Linked DNA regions of Homo sapiens: all the other regions are linked to region 1. Evidence: fine-mapped expression QTL. A gene starts in region 1. Each other region holds a variant in brackets. All regions are shown on one strand. Distances are from middle to middle.

Region 1 (4,241 bases):
GTTATTATCAATAGAAAGGATGTCTGGGTTATGATAAGGGGTTGTTAGACCCAGATTTTGTCACACAGACGAAGCCTCCACGTAGCAGGCTTTAGAGAAAACAGATCTTAAATGTTTCTTATCAGACTTATGGTCTATGTTGATGTTAATTACGCATGTCCAACCCCCCCATCCCCTTTTTCATGGCCTGAACCAGTCTTTCAGGTTAAATTTTAGAGTGCCCTGACTGGGGAAAGAGTCCATACAGATGGTCGTCCATTCAGATGGTTGTGGGGGGCCTTCAAATTTTATTTTTGGTTTACAAAACAGAAAATGGAAGCACCTTGCTTCCCACTTCAAAGCCCGTTTCATGACACACACTCCCATTAAATTACATGGGATACAAAACAAAGCTTTCTATGCTGGGAAAGAAATACACTCTACAACATCTTTTTTGAGGTTAGTAATTATGGAAAGCATTTTCTTCTGCAAAGGAATTCCACGCCCTATAAATTTAAATTATTAGCTTGTCATCTCCAAGAGATCAGCATCCTCATAAACGGTGAGAGAAGGAACACAGAATACAGGATCCAGCACAGTTTCGGGATTCTGGCTTCTTTGCCAGACTTATCTTTGCTTACTTCTTTGTATAGACTTACTTCTTTGCCAGACTTATCTTTGCTTACTTCTTTGTATAGACTTACTTCTTTGCCAGAAGTATATTCAAAAAAGTTCCGTGGAAGCATCAAATCAACCACCTCTACTTATGATTTCCATGCATCTCTGGAATGCATAAAGCATGATTTCAGAACATGTTCTAATTCTAAGACCCTTCTCTTCCCGGCAGTTTAAAAAAAACAAAAAACAAAACGTCGTATCTTTGAGCATTGGTTTTCAAACATCACAATCACTTTAACATGACCTGAAATGCTTGTGAAAACACAAACTGCTGGGCTCCAGCAGGTTTCTGACTCAACAGGTCTAGGGTGGTGCCTGGGAATTTGCATTTCTAACTAGAGTTCCCAGGTGGTGCTAATGTTCCCAGTTCAGAGACTTCAATTCGAGATCCACTGCAGTATCCATAACTTTTGCTGATTTCCTTCAAATCATGATACTTCAGGGCTCTCTGCATCACCTCTACTGAGGAGCCCTACCCATTAAAGCTGGGGTAGGTTGGCCCAAGAATGGAACCGGGATCGTTGAGATTTCAGCACCCCAGCATTTTTTAGTGACTGAAATAATGAAAATTCTGATCAGGCTCCTGCTTGCTTGCACATTTTAACCACTCGCTTTTTGCCCAATATTCTCCTTGTTTCCACAATATAATTATAAACTGCTGAGGTACTGCTTCCTCGTCAAGAACAAAGAGGTTAACTTCAGGGTCACAAAAATGTTTGCAGAAGGGATGAATACCTCCAAGGGCTTTGCAACCAGCTGCGGATGCCTGGACGTCTAATTGCTCAAAGGTGTTATCTGAGACTGAAGAAACAGACTTTTCCCCTGGATTCTTTGAAAATCCCCCTCTCTTATTCTCTAGCAGAATAAAAACTCCCTGCTTTTTCCTTTTTACACACGGATTTGAGAGATCTTGTTCTCCCTCCTTCTGGCTTTTACTAAATTGAATGTCTTTCTCTATCCCCAAGCACCAGTATGTCAGTGTTTGACATCAACTGCACCACTGATACACGAGTCGGAATTTGAGCTTCTACAAGTACATTCCTTCCTAGGCCAAACACTGACGCTAAGAAATACGAGAACAGATCATCGCTAAACAGCAGCTGAAGGTCAGGCGAACTGACTCGCTGCGGAATCTGCCTTTGCACGTGATCAGTCGGACGTCTACACCCGCAGCCGTCTTCTGTCTCCGCCTCACCCTCAGGCCTGACGGTCCGAGTGGAGCTGCGGGACAGCCCGAACCTCCAGGTCAGCCCCGCGGCCCTCCATGGCGCTGGTGCGCGCACTCGTCTGCTGCCTGCTGACTGCCTGGCACTGCCGCTCCGGCCTCGGGCTGCCCGTGGCGCCCGCAGGCGGCAGGAATCCTCCTCCGGCGATAGGTGAGTTGTCCGCGACCCTTCTCTTCCCAGCCGGCAAAGAGCGCGGAGCGGCGGCGCCTGCGCACAGCAGGAGAAAGTGCGTGGGGGCAGCTGCCCCCGGCAGAGGCTCGGGCTAGCGGGGCCCCTGACGCGTCCGGCGTTGACCACGGCTGGTGGGCGCGGGGAGGGCGACCAAGGGACTACAGCGTTAGGGCGTCCAGCCGGGAGGCCGGGGCTGGGCGGGGGAAATGCCCTCGCCGGTGGGGGCGCTCCAAGGGCGCGTCGGCCGGATTTCGCCAGCCTGGCTTTTGTTTACATCCTGCATCTCAGTTGTTTTGTTCCTTGGGGAAGGAAGGAAAAGCTGCGGGACTCAAGGGAAGAGGAAGCTGGGAGTCCGATGTCCAGCACAGCAAGAGGCCCCTAATCGGTCCTGAATGGAGGGGGACTGCAGTTTCCCCACCAGCTCAGGGAAGTAAATTTCAGCGTGACTCACACTATCTTCTGTCTTGCTCGACCGAGATCAGTGGCTTTTTCTGCCACTCACCCAGCCAGAGCGCGAAAGCACCCTCGGGTAGACTCACCCCTTAGTCTACCGTGGAACTCACGGGGACTTCATTTCACCTGGATGTCCACTAGGTTTCCTGCGGGCGGGACCCATTTTATTCACTCCCAGCACTTAACACAGTGCCCGTTACAGTAGTGATTCTCTTAAGTGTGCCCTGGACCGGTGGCAGCAGCCGCCGCACTTAAAATTGTTAGCATTGCAAATTTCCAGCCCATCCCAGACCTACTGAATCTGAAACGCCGGCGTTGGGCTTCCACAGTATGCTGTTTAACCCACCCTCCGCATGATTCCTTTCGGCTAAGTTTGAGACTCACTGGTCCAGAATAGATACATTTTGGTGGGAGATTGTACAATGCCATCCGAGCCTCCAGTTCCAAAAATCAAGGTGCCCTCACCTCCTCAACTCCCTTTAAAAATAATTGCACTGTTAAGAGGAAAAACAAAATTAGAGAAGTGGGGTTCTGTTTTCTTTTAGGGGAGAGTTGTCCCTGAGACTCGGTAGCAGCACCTAGTGCTGAAACCTCTTTCGCTCCCTCTGTGCTTTCTCAGGACTTGGGAGCGCTCTAGGGCAAATATCTTCTCTTTGAAGGCCAAGTCCTCACGACTCAGCTGTCAGGTCTGAAGCAAAAACTGTAAATCTGGTTTCCGAACTGTGGCAAATGTCAGTCATTACAAGAAATTTCCCCAAAATGTTTATGTATACTGGTTTCTGCTTTTATTACGGCTTAGCTTGTGTTCCTTTAATTATGTGACCGGTTAGGGTTTTGAAATAAAATGTCTCACGTTGCTTGAGGCCACACAATGGCAAATTCACCTGTGTTTTAAAGAGGCCTGAATGAGCGCTTTCTGGGGACTCTGTGAGTCTTCACACCTCCTGTTTGGGAAACTGCAAGGTTGAATCCCCTCCTACTAAAGGGGAAGGAAGAGGGGTTACTGGAGTTCAGTGGTCTGAAGTGTTACTGGAGTCACTGGAGTTCGAAAGTCTGAAGTGTTACTGGAGTTCAAAGGTCTGAAGTGTTCACTCAGCAGTTTCACAATTCTCCTTGTTTGTAATATTTTGCGTATTTTCCACTTGATGTGACAACTCTCCTGCCTCCTCTCAGCCCCACATGCTTGGACTTCCTTTCAGCATCCACCCTGCCTGGCTACTGCTTTCTTGTTTTGTGTTTTTGCGTTTAAATTCCCAGTCTTAGTTTTCTGCCCTGTCAAGTCCTGGTGGTCGGACGACAGAAGTTCTAGGAAGCTTCACCTGTGTGTTTTTGGCTACAGTTCTTTAGATTGAGTAGGCTGGGACTGGCTTGTGTATTGGTACTGTTAAAGCAAACTAAATACGGCCTGAGAAGGACTCCTTACTTCTATATTTGAATCCTTGTGAATGAACTGTAACCTAGCTTAATAGTCAGATGAGACTGAAAACCTAACTTAAGAGTATGCACTGGTAACAATAGCTAAGTTTGGCCAATCCCAGCAGCCATACTTCAACCATTCATATACTGCTGAGTGTTCAAACTATGTTCAAATAAGGCATAAGGCGAGCTGAATTATGTCTGAACTATGGTTCATTGGATTCTTGAGAAGTTATAAAATATTTTGGATTAAAAGATTTTCTGGTATAATTTTGAGAGTTTTTCTAGATTTGCTGAACACACACACATATTTTTGGA
Region 2 (4,241 bases), 92 kb before region 1:
GGATTATACCACCAATGAGAGAAGTATTTGTTTCTGTTTTATTCTGTGAAAGAATTTTATGACACCTAAATGTGTGTGTGTTCATGGATTACACATATTATATACATTATTGTATTGTATGTGTATTACGTAATAATAGGTATAGAGAACAAAAAATAAGTTTTTTCAAAATTATGCACATTATTCAATTGTATGATCTTTAAGATTCAAAAATGAATTAAAGTTTTCATATCAGATGAATTACTGAAACAATATTTTGGGTTCGCTGAAACACTATGGTGAATATGCGGTTCAAAGAAGAAAAATATTCTTGTTGAAATGATTCAGGCATATTGTAGATGGCTGTACTAGGTGACTTTTAGGTGACTTCTTTATAACTTTATAAAGTTATTTTAGTCTAATCTCTTCTAAATTTATAAGGGCCTATGACTCTAGAAAAGGCAATATAATGAAATTTTTTAAAATCCATGTTTTGGAATCCTATGTGACAGGGCTTAAATCCTAGCTTAGGGCAAGTTTCTTAATATCTAAAAGACTCTATTTCAGTTGTTTCTTTTGAATTGTAGGGAATCTATCTCTCCTCTCTCTTCTCTCCCTCCCTCTCTGACATCTGTGGTAAAGATTAAATAAAATATTGCATATAAAGCCATGTACAATATATATTAATAAAAGCCACTGCCTAGCTAAGGGCCCAATTAAGAGTAGCTGTTCTACCTGTGTATGGCTGATAACATTTTTAGTTATCAACTGAGATTTCTTTACTCCTTTATACTTGCTTTAATACTCTATAAAGGTGGTTCACTGAGGGATGATGCACTTAATCTAGAACAAACGATCACTTAAGTTTCTGTTTTTTAAAATCTAAACAAAGAGCCATAGTCTTGAAAGTCAGCATTATTTATGACAATAGCCTGACTTTTTGAAAGAAAAGATTTATTGAGCTATCTGAAACTGAAGAACTGAGAACAAACCGTAGAGTGGGAATTACTATATGATGATGTAAAAGTTTTGATGTTTCTGGGAAGGGAAATGAGTCATTGACTAGCTAGTGGGAGAAGAATTCAGGATGTAATGAGACCCCAGTCATTATTCAAGTCTCTGTGAAGGTGGCCAGGATTCCAGCTCACTGGGTTGAACAGAAGGGAGATTGAATAATAAAAATTCTAAGGAACATCCAAATGTAAAGAGGACTATCCCTCACTTCCCAGGGAAAATTTGGGTATCAAAAAGAAGCTCTCTTTGTATGTTCTTCGACCCTAGAAAGGTAGACAAGCAATGGTCAAGAGAAGTGCCCAGGCAGATGGGCCTGACTGCCACCTCACAGAGTTCTCAGCCCCTCAGAGGAGTGAAACTCTGAAGTGATTTCATGGACCTCATGGAGGGCATAGAATGATTTAAATAGACCGTCAACCTTAAAGTCCAGAGATGTAACAAAGAGGATGCAGATGCACATATCTCTACCTGAGGTAATAGTTATACCTGAGACAATAGCAGTGGATCCCTGTGCACACTGATGTAACTGGACACATTGCAGCTCAGTGAGGGTCAGCGTGGACACAGGATATGTGTGAACCTGATGCCTTTTCTCCACACTTCAGTCTCCCTTTCATGAGAGAAAGGAACATGCTATTAGTGGTAGGGTGTCTTAGTCACCTCCTATTTACCCTGTGGGTGAGGGAGAGCTAAACACCACCTGACCCTGAAGAGATGAGACCAACAGCAAGTTATTAGTCATGTCTACTGATGGCCTGGGGGAGGAGGACATGGCACACCTTGCAGGGCCACACAGGAGTTGCACTCAAGAGCAGAGTGAACAACCAGGTCTGTAGGAGGTAGCCTTTGGAGAATTAAGAGGGTAGGGTGCTCCCAGTTCTTGTGGAATGATGTGATTCACTTGTTTGATTTGGCAGGCAAACAGAGAACAAAACCTGCTACTCAAGGATAAATAGAAACTGTGCCTGGTCCCCTTCATAAGGATGGTGGTCTGTCTAGGATACCTGATCTATGGGAGGAGAACTTGTAGTTAGGCCATTAGAGACCTGTTTTATCAGATATCAAGCCTAAATTTTTGGCTTTATGCTACAATTGATCACTTGATGCTTTGAC[A/G]TCAGTTTAAATCTTGATGATAACTGAGACTTTTAGGGATTAGGAGATGTGCCTTCCTAGGAAGCAAAGTAGGCACCTGACCAAGCAGAGAGGGCCACATTTTGAGGTGGTTGCCAAAAACATGAACTTCGGGCATGTCTCCATATATAACCAGTAAAAGCAATTGAGAGACCTGTGTGACATTGATGTAGAGAGTGGATGCTCCCAGGGGGTGTGAATTGAGACTAACCAATGCTTGTGGCAGTGGTGACATCAAGGGGGTAGAGGGACATTTGTCTCATTGTGACTTAAATAGTTCTTTGAAAACCCATTAGGCTTATCAATTAAAGTAGCTGCCTGGGGCTAACTACCTGAGGCCTATGGGAAGGCTGCATTTCAATGGAAAGCTTTCTTCAAGATTCCATTGTGTATTCTGAGACATAAAATGAGTGCCTTGGTAACAATCTAGTGTCTAAAACTGCAAATGAGATAAGGAATATCCTGTTGAGGCCTTGTATTGTGGCCTTAGGATATGTAGAGAAACCTGTTGATTTGGTTTATATATTTATATTTGGGTACCTGTGAAACAAGAGATTCACAGAGTTCTTTAAAGTGAGACCCTTAGGCAATGGTCTAAGAGTTGTAAAAATATACATATGAGGTGAAATGGCCAGGGCATCCATTGCCAAGATAAATGTCTAGAGTGTGCCAATTGTGCTGACCCTTGGGTTCTATTCTTTATCAGGGACATCTTGGTTAAGGAATTAAGAGCAACAACTCTCTACTGAGCTCTATCATGTATAATTGTGGCAACATCATTGGTAAAATGTATGGCCTTCTATTGCCATTCATTCAGTTGATCCCAGGGGGCTCTCCAGGTAGCCAAGGACTCTAGGAAAGGGATGACTTCCCCTAGCACCATGGTTTTGGCAAAGGACTGATGGTAGAGGAGGCCACCACCTTCTACAGATAGAATATGCCAGAAGGGCCAAGCTTGACTCCATCCTGTCGCAAAGAGGTCTCATAGCTAGGCCAGATTCATGGGGGTGCTGCTCCAATGCATTACCAGGCATTGCAGTAGCTGGGTACAGAGGGTCACAGGCTCAAAGTCTGTGAGACCCTCTATTTCCAGAAAAGCCCAGTGTGTGGCCAGTAATTGCCACTGTAATGGTGTATAGTACAAGGCCAGGAAAGGCAGTTTCTTGCATCAGAAGCCCATGAGCAACTTATGACCATCACAGGTGGCCTAGAGACTCCAGGAGGCATGAGATGAGGTCGCTGAAGCCTCTGAGGGCACTAACTGGAGTGCCTGTTGATTTCATTTTGGACAGCTTCTACAGCCTTTTGTTGAGGAGGTTCCCCTTTAAGATGGGCAATCTGTAAGTAACAGCACTAGTGAAATTAAAGAAAATTTGCAAAAGAATATGTTGTCTCCAGAACCCAAAAAAGACTAAAAGATGTTGGACTTGTATTAACCTTGTAGGTACTGAGAGGGTTAATACCTGTTTTTTGACAGTATCAGGGATGGAGCAGCTTTTGCTTTACCAAATAACTTTCAGGAATTTAACAGAAGTCACAGGACTTTGTACTATGTGTGAAATATCCACCCTTTTTGTGTGAGTTCCTTTGTATTTGTATATTCTTAATGAATACGTCAAACAAATCTTCCTGGAGAAGGATGTCATCAATGTAATATACCTGTGCTCCTGGAGAAAGGTGGATGTCATTAAGATCCTGCCTGCAAAGACTGTGTGCAGTAGCAAGGCTGCTGAGGTAGCCCTTGAGTAGCCTGGTAAAAATATATTATGTAGCAGCGCACCAGCATGGCACATGTATACATATGTAACTAACCTGCACAATGTGCACATGTACCCTAAAACTTAAAGTATAATAATAAAAAAAAAAGAATTGCATTTGTGAACTAAAATATATATATATATATTGTGTCTCATGGGAGGTAAAAGCAAACTGTGACTGCTAAACTGCTGACATTGGCACCAAATGGATCATATTAGCCTAATTCATAGTAGCAAAATATTTATCAGTTGCTGATTGGATGGAGTCAGAAGTTTCAATACTCAGTTTGTTGGAAATAGGGACCTGAACTGTATGGGACCATGGCATTAAGGTTGCAGCAGTCTACTGTGCTGCACCAT
Region 3 (4,240 bases), 42 kb before region 1:
GCATCAATATGGTGACCTCCCGGAAGCGGGGGAACAGCAGGTTGCCTAAGGAGGGGTGGACCGGCCCAGGTCGGAAATTGAGCAGGTCAAAACTCCCGTGCTGATCAGTAGTGGGATCGTGCCTGTGCTGTCAGCAGATCTGAGCTTTCTTCTTGGACACCTTATACCCACAGTCCTCCAGGTGCCAAAGCAGGGCATCCGTCCCTTTAGCACACCTGACTGCTGTGGAGTGTCCCAGCAGAAGGTTGTCCACGTACAGGAGCAAGATGCAGCCTAAGTCTTTAGCAGGAAGCTTTTGCAGGTCTCGAGCCAGGGCCTCCCCAAAGATAGTAGGGGAGTTCTTGAACCTTTGGGGAAGCCGGGTCCAAGTGTACTGAGTAGTGACACGTGACTCCGGATCTTCCCACTGAAAGGCAAACAGCTTCTGGCTCTCAGGAGCTAGTCTGATGCAAAAGAAGGCATATTTTAAGTCCAGACAGGTAAACCAGCTGTCCTCAGCTAGCAGCAGCCCTAATAATGTGTAAGGGTTAGGAACTGTTGGGTGCAGAGTCACTGTAGCTTGGTTGACCAAGCATAAGTCCTGTACTGGCTGGTAGTCCTTGGTCCCTGGCTTAGGCACAGGCAGGAGGGGGGTGTGCCATGGAGACTAGCAAAGAACTATAATTCCATAGGCTTTGAAGTGCCTGAGATGAACCTGGATTCCTTTAAGAGCTTCTCTGGGAACTGGATACTGCTTTTGTCTAATTGGTTGTGCCCCAGGCTTAACTTCTATGAGTATGGGGGCTTGGTTGACCACCAGTCCTGGAGGATTATCCTCTGCCCATACTCGGGGCCATTGCTTAGCTAGAGCTGATTTTATCTCTTGGCCTGGCTTGGTTAGAAAAAGTCTCCATTCTTCTTCCCGGGGGACCGTAAGGGCCTTGATAACTCCTGTTCCCGGTAACTTTAGCTGTAAAGAGCCCTGTTTTGTAAAGCAGATGGTGGCTCTCAGCTTGCTAAGCAGGACTCTTCCCAGCAATAGCAAAGGACAGTCAGGCATGTACAAGAACTGGTGAACTATCTTATGTCCCCACACCAAGCAGGTCCGTGGTAGACAGAAAGCCTGCTTAGTGGAAACTCCTGTTGCTCTGATTATATCAATGGTTTTCTTGGATAAGGGGGCGACCAGGGTTGTCACTACTGAATGTTCAGCACCAGTATCGACCAAAAATTTAATGTCCTTGCCCCTAATTGTAATCCTGACCATGGGCTCCTTGGTGGTGCTTGAGCCCGGTCCCCTTCAGTCCAGTAGCCCTTCAGCCAGATTGAACAAAGCTCCCTCATCTTTATCTGAGGTCTTTTGTTCTGAATCACCTTGCTTTTCCTTCAGCTGGGGACACTTATCTTTCCAATGTCTTATTTCCTTATAGTAGGTGCATTGGTTATGTTGCAAGCGTGGGGGATTAGACTGGGTATTCTTCCCGGAACCCCCCCTTTCCCTCTCCTTTCAGAGGAATTCCCCTAATGGCCGTGGCCAGTAAGTTGGCGTTTCGCCTAGCCTGGCGTTCACCTTCCTTACGGCTTTCTCTGCGGCTTGTTGCATCTCTATTCACAAACACTTGATTGGCTGTTTCCAGTAACTGTGAGGTATTCACACCTGCAAACTCAGCCTTGTTTCTGCAATTTTCTCCTGATATCTTTCACGCTTTGACTAACTAAGGCCATGTTAATCATGCGCTGATCTTCAGGGCTATCTGGATCAAAAGGAGTGTACATACGGTAAGCCTCACACAGTCTTTCATAGAATTGTGCCGGACTCTCCTCTTTTCCTTGGATGACCTCAGAGACCTTATTTACATTTGTAGCCTTTTGAGACCCTTTCTTTAGACCTTCTATTAATGTCTCACGGTACCATCTTAGCCTCT[C/T]CACGTCTGGTCCCTCATTCGGGTCCCGTTGGGGGTCTGTTCCTGGCAGCTGAATTCTTATATATTCTTGGGGGTTTTGGTAATCGGCTGGGACGTGCTCTTCTAGCCACTTAGTTGCTGCCTGGAGCACCCTTCACCTTTCATCTGTATTAAAGAGGTACATGAGCAGCTGAGGCCATCAGCCCAAGTAGGATTATGAGTCTGTATAATAGTTTGGAGCAAGTCAATTAAAGCTTGAGGCTTTTCAGTGTAAGATGGAGTATTATTTTTCCAATTGAGGAGGTCAGCAGAGGTGAAAGGTTGATACACAAAGGCACACCTTTCCACCATGTGTCCGTCCTCATCTACCCCAGTATATCGCTGCTGTCTCAGGGGCATTTGGATTCCAGTCTTGGGCAGTAAGCGAGCTGCCAAGGGAGGAGTTTCTCCTGCGGCTTCACTTCCTCTTTTGTCTACTCTGGGCGGTCTAGGGGTGTGGTTATCTGGTGGAGGTGGAGGTGCTGTGGGCTCAGGGCTTGGGGAGCCCTTCCTCTCCATAAGGAGGGGGTACTGCTGGTACCAATTCCTGCCATGATTCTTCTGGTGTTGGGTCGGACAGACTTTTGGTGCCGACTTCCCTCTGCGGGTGGAGCGAGAACCTTCCTTAACGAACTGTTCCTTTGCTGCTAGTACTGCTGCTGCCTGTCCTCTTAACCACTGTGGGGGGTCCAAAACTAGCTGTAACCAAGAATCTATATATGGGAAGTGATCTGGGTGTCCTGGCTTACAGGTTACCCTGTGCCGTACTTTCGAGACAAGGGACCTGTCCAGGCTTTCTTCTGATGGCCAACCCACCTCTATGGCCAGTCTATCTCACACAAAGTTCTAAGTTTTCCTGGTATCATGATGCCTCTATAGTCTCCCTTAAATCCCTTTTTGAAATTTTTCAATATAGTTCCTAGTGGGGTGGGCTTACTTTGTGCCTGACCCATATTTCCTCGAGACAAAACACCACACTCACACCACACGCACACCACAAAATGAAGAACGGGTAAAAAGGGCACACACACACTTTTACAGTTTACACCAAACCAGAATCAAAACCAAAATCAGAGTATCAAGAAATCCAAGCCAGGTCAAAACCAAAACCAAAGTATCAAGCAATTCAAGTCAAGTCAAAAACAAAAACCAAAGTGCCAGTACAGGCATGCTGTGGGTGATCAGGCCATGCTTCCACTCAAATGGAGTGGGCAAGTTCCAAAGACTAGTCTTACCAAGTTTCAGATGTCCGGACTCCAAGTGCCAGTTCCTTCCCGGTGTTCAGCCACTGTGTTGATCCTCCACGGGGGCCTGCCATGTGCTGCTCTGGCGAGGCATTCCACTGGGGCAATTGCCTACCCGGGAGCGCTCTCAGGATCCACGTCGCTCAAGCTGGCCAGAGTCCCCTGCAGGGATGCTCCACAGGGCAGGCCTAAGCCGCCTAAGGGGCTGCCTCCACTGTCCGTTAATCACCACGTTTCCTGGTCAGGGAACCAAGAAATGTAGCAGGACAAGCCGCAGACAAAACCCCTCAGACACTGAGTTAAAGAAGGAAGTGGTTTATTCCACCGGGAGCATCAGCAAGACTCCTGTCTCAAGAGCTGAGCTCCCTGAGTGAGCAATTCCTGTCCCTTTTAAGGGCTCACAACTCTAAGGGGGTCGCTTGAGAGGGTCGTGATTGATTGAGCAAGCAGGGGGTACATGACTGGGGGCTGCGTGCACCGGTAATTAGAACGGAACAGAATAGGACAGGGATTTTCACAGTGCTTTTCTATACAATGTCTGTAATCTATAGATAACATAACCAATTAGGTCAGGGGTTGATCTTTAACTACCAGGCCCAGGGTGTGGCACTGGGTTGTCTGCTTGTGGATTTCATTTCTGCCTTTTAGTTTTTACTTCTTTCTTTGGAGGCAAAAATTGGGTATAAGACAATATGAGGGGTGGTCTCCTCCCTTAAACCTGGTGGAATGCAACTGAAGGAGAAGGATTGGAGATCTGCACTTATCAAAACAGCAAATCAACAAAAAGGTAAACAGCTTATTTTTCTGAATTTTGAAAACATTTTATGATGCTGCCTACATTTATTAAAGAACACATGACCATAATGATAATAGTGAAAATTAAGTGATGATTAATAGTCTCTCTCTCTGTTTTTATGTGTGAATATTTCCATATTAGGAAAAAGAAGTGTCTTTGTTTCTTAAGGTCCGATGCTCCAAAATGGAATAACGTGACTTATAACCCTAAATATCTACTCTCATGACTGACACCACCCAAGATCCAGGGAATCACTTCATATATATCCTTTCCAGTAT

Direction of the effects. Alleles are on the strand shown, and positions count from the first base shown. SD is a standard deviation of normalised expression in the study named. Not every link is listed here.
As copies of A replace G in region 2, the expression in non-classical monocytes of the gene that starts at base 1,833 in region 1 goes up (large effect, 0.90 SD a copy in Schmiedel 2018).

The links. PIP is the estimated chance that this variant, and not a neighbour inherited with it, causes the effect.
Region 2: its variant is the best candidate, but not a certain one, in a credible set for the expression of SMPDL3A in non-classical monocytes (Schmiedel 2018, PIP 0.87).
Region 3: its variant is the best candidate, but not a certain one, in a credible set for the expression of SMPDL3A in whole blood (TOPMed, PIP 0.55).

The regions. Positions count from the first base shown.
Region 1 is chr6:122,787,426-122,791,666 of GRCh38, forward strand. SMPDL3A (sphingomyelin phosphodiesterase acid like 3A) reads left to right here and starts at 1,833. Exons shown (of 8, transcript NM_006714.5): 1 at 1,833-2,033. The coding sequence starts at 1,922. RefSeq lists enhancers at 1,643-2,144, 2,145-2,644, 3,748-3,917, silencers at 1,859-2,153, 3,259-3,553 and a cis regulatory region at 3,833.
Region 2 is chr6:122,695,274-122,699,514 of GRCh38, forward strand. All of the region lies in intron 3 of PKIB (cAMP-dependent protein kinase inhibitor beta), which reads left to right. Among named protein-coding and RNA genes, the nearest start is that of FABP7, 82 kb to the right of the region's middle. RefSeq lists an enhancer at 654-1,853. The variant A/G (reference allele first, on the strand shown) is at 2,107.
Region 3 is chr6:122,745,382-122,749,621 of GRCh38, forward strand. It overlaps the pseudogene RN7SL564P and a transcript of FABP7 not described here. Among named protein-coding and RNA genes, the nearest start is that of FABP7, 32 kb to the right of the region's middle. The variant C/T (reference allele first, on the strand shown) is at 1,905.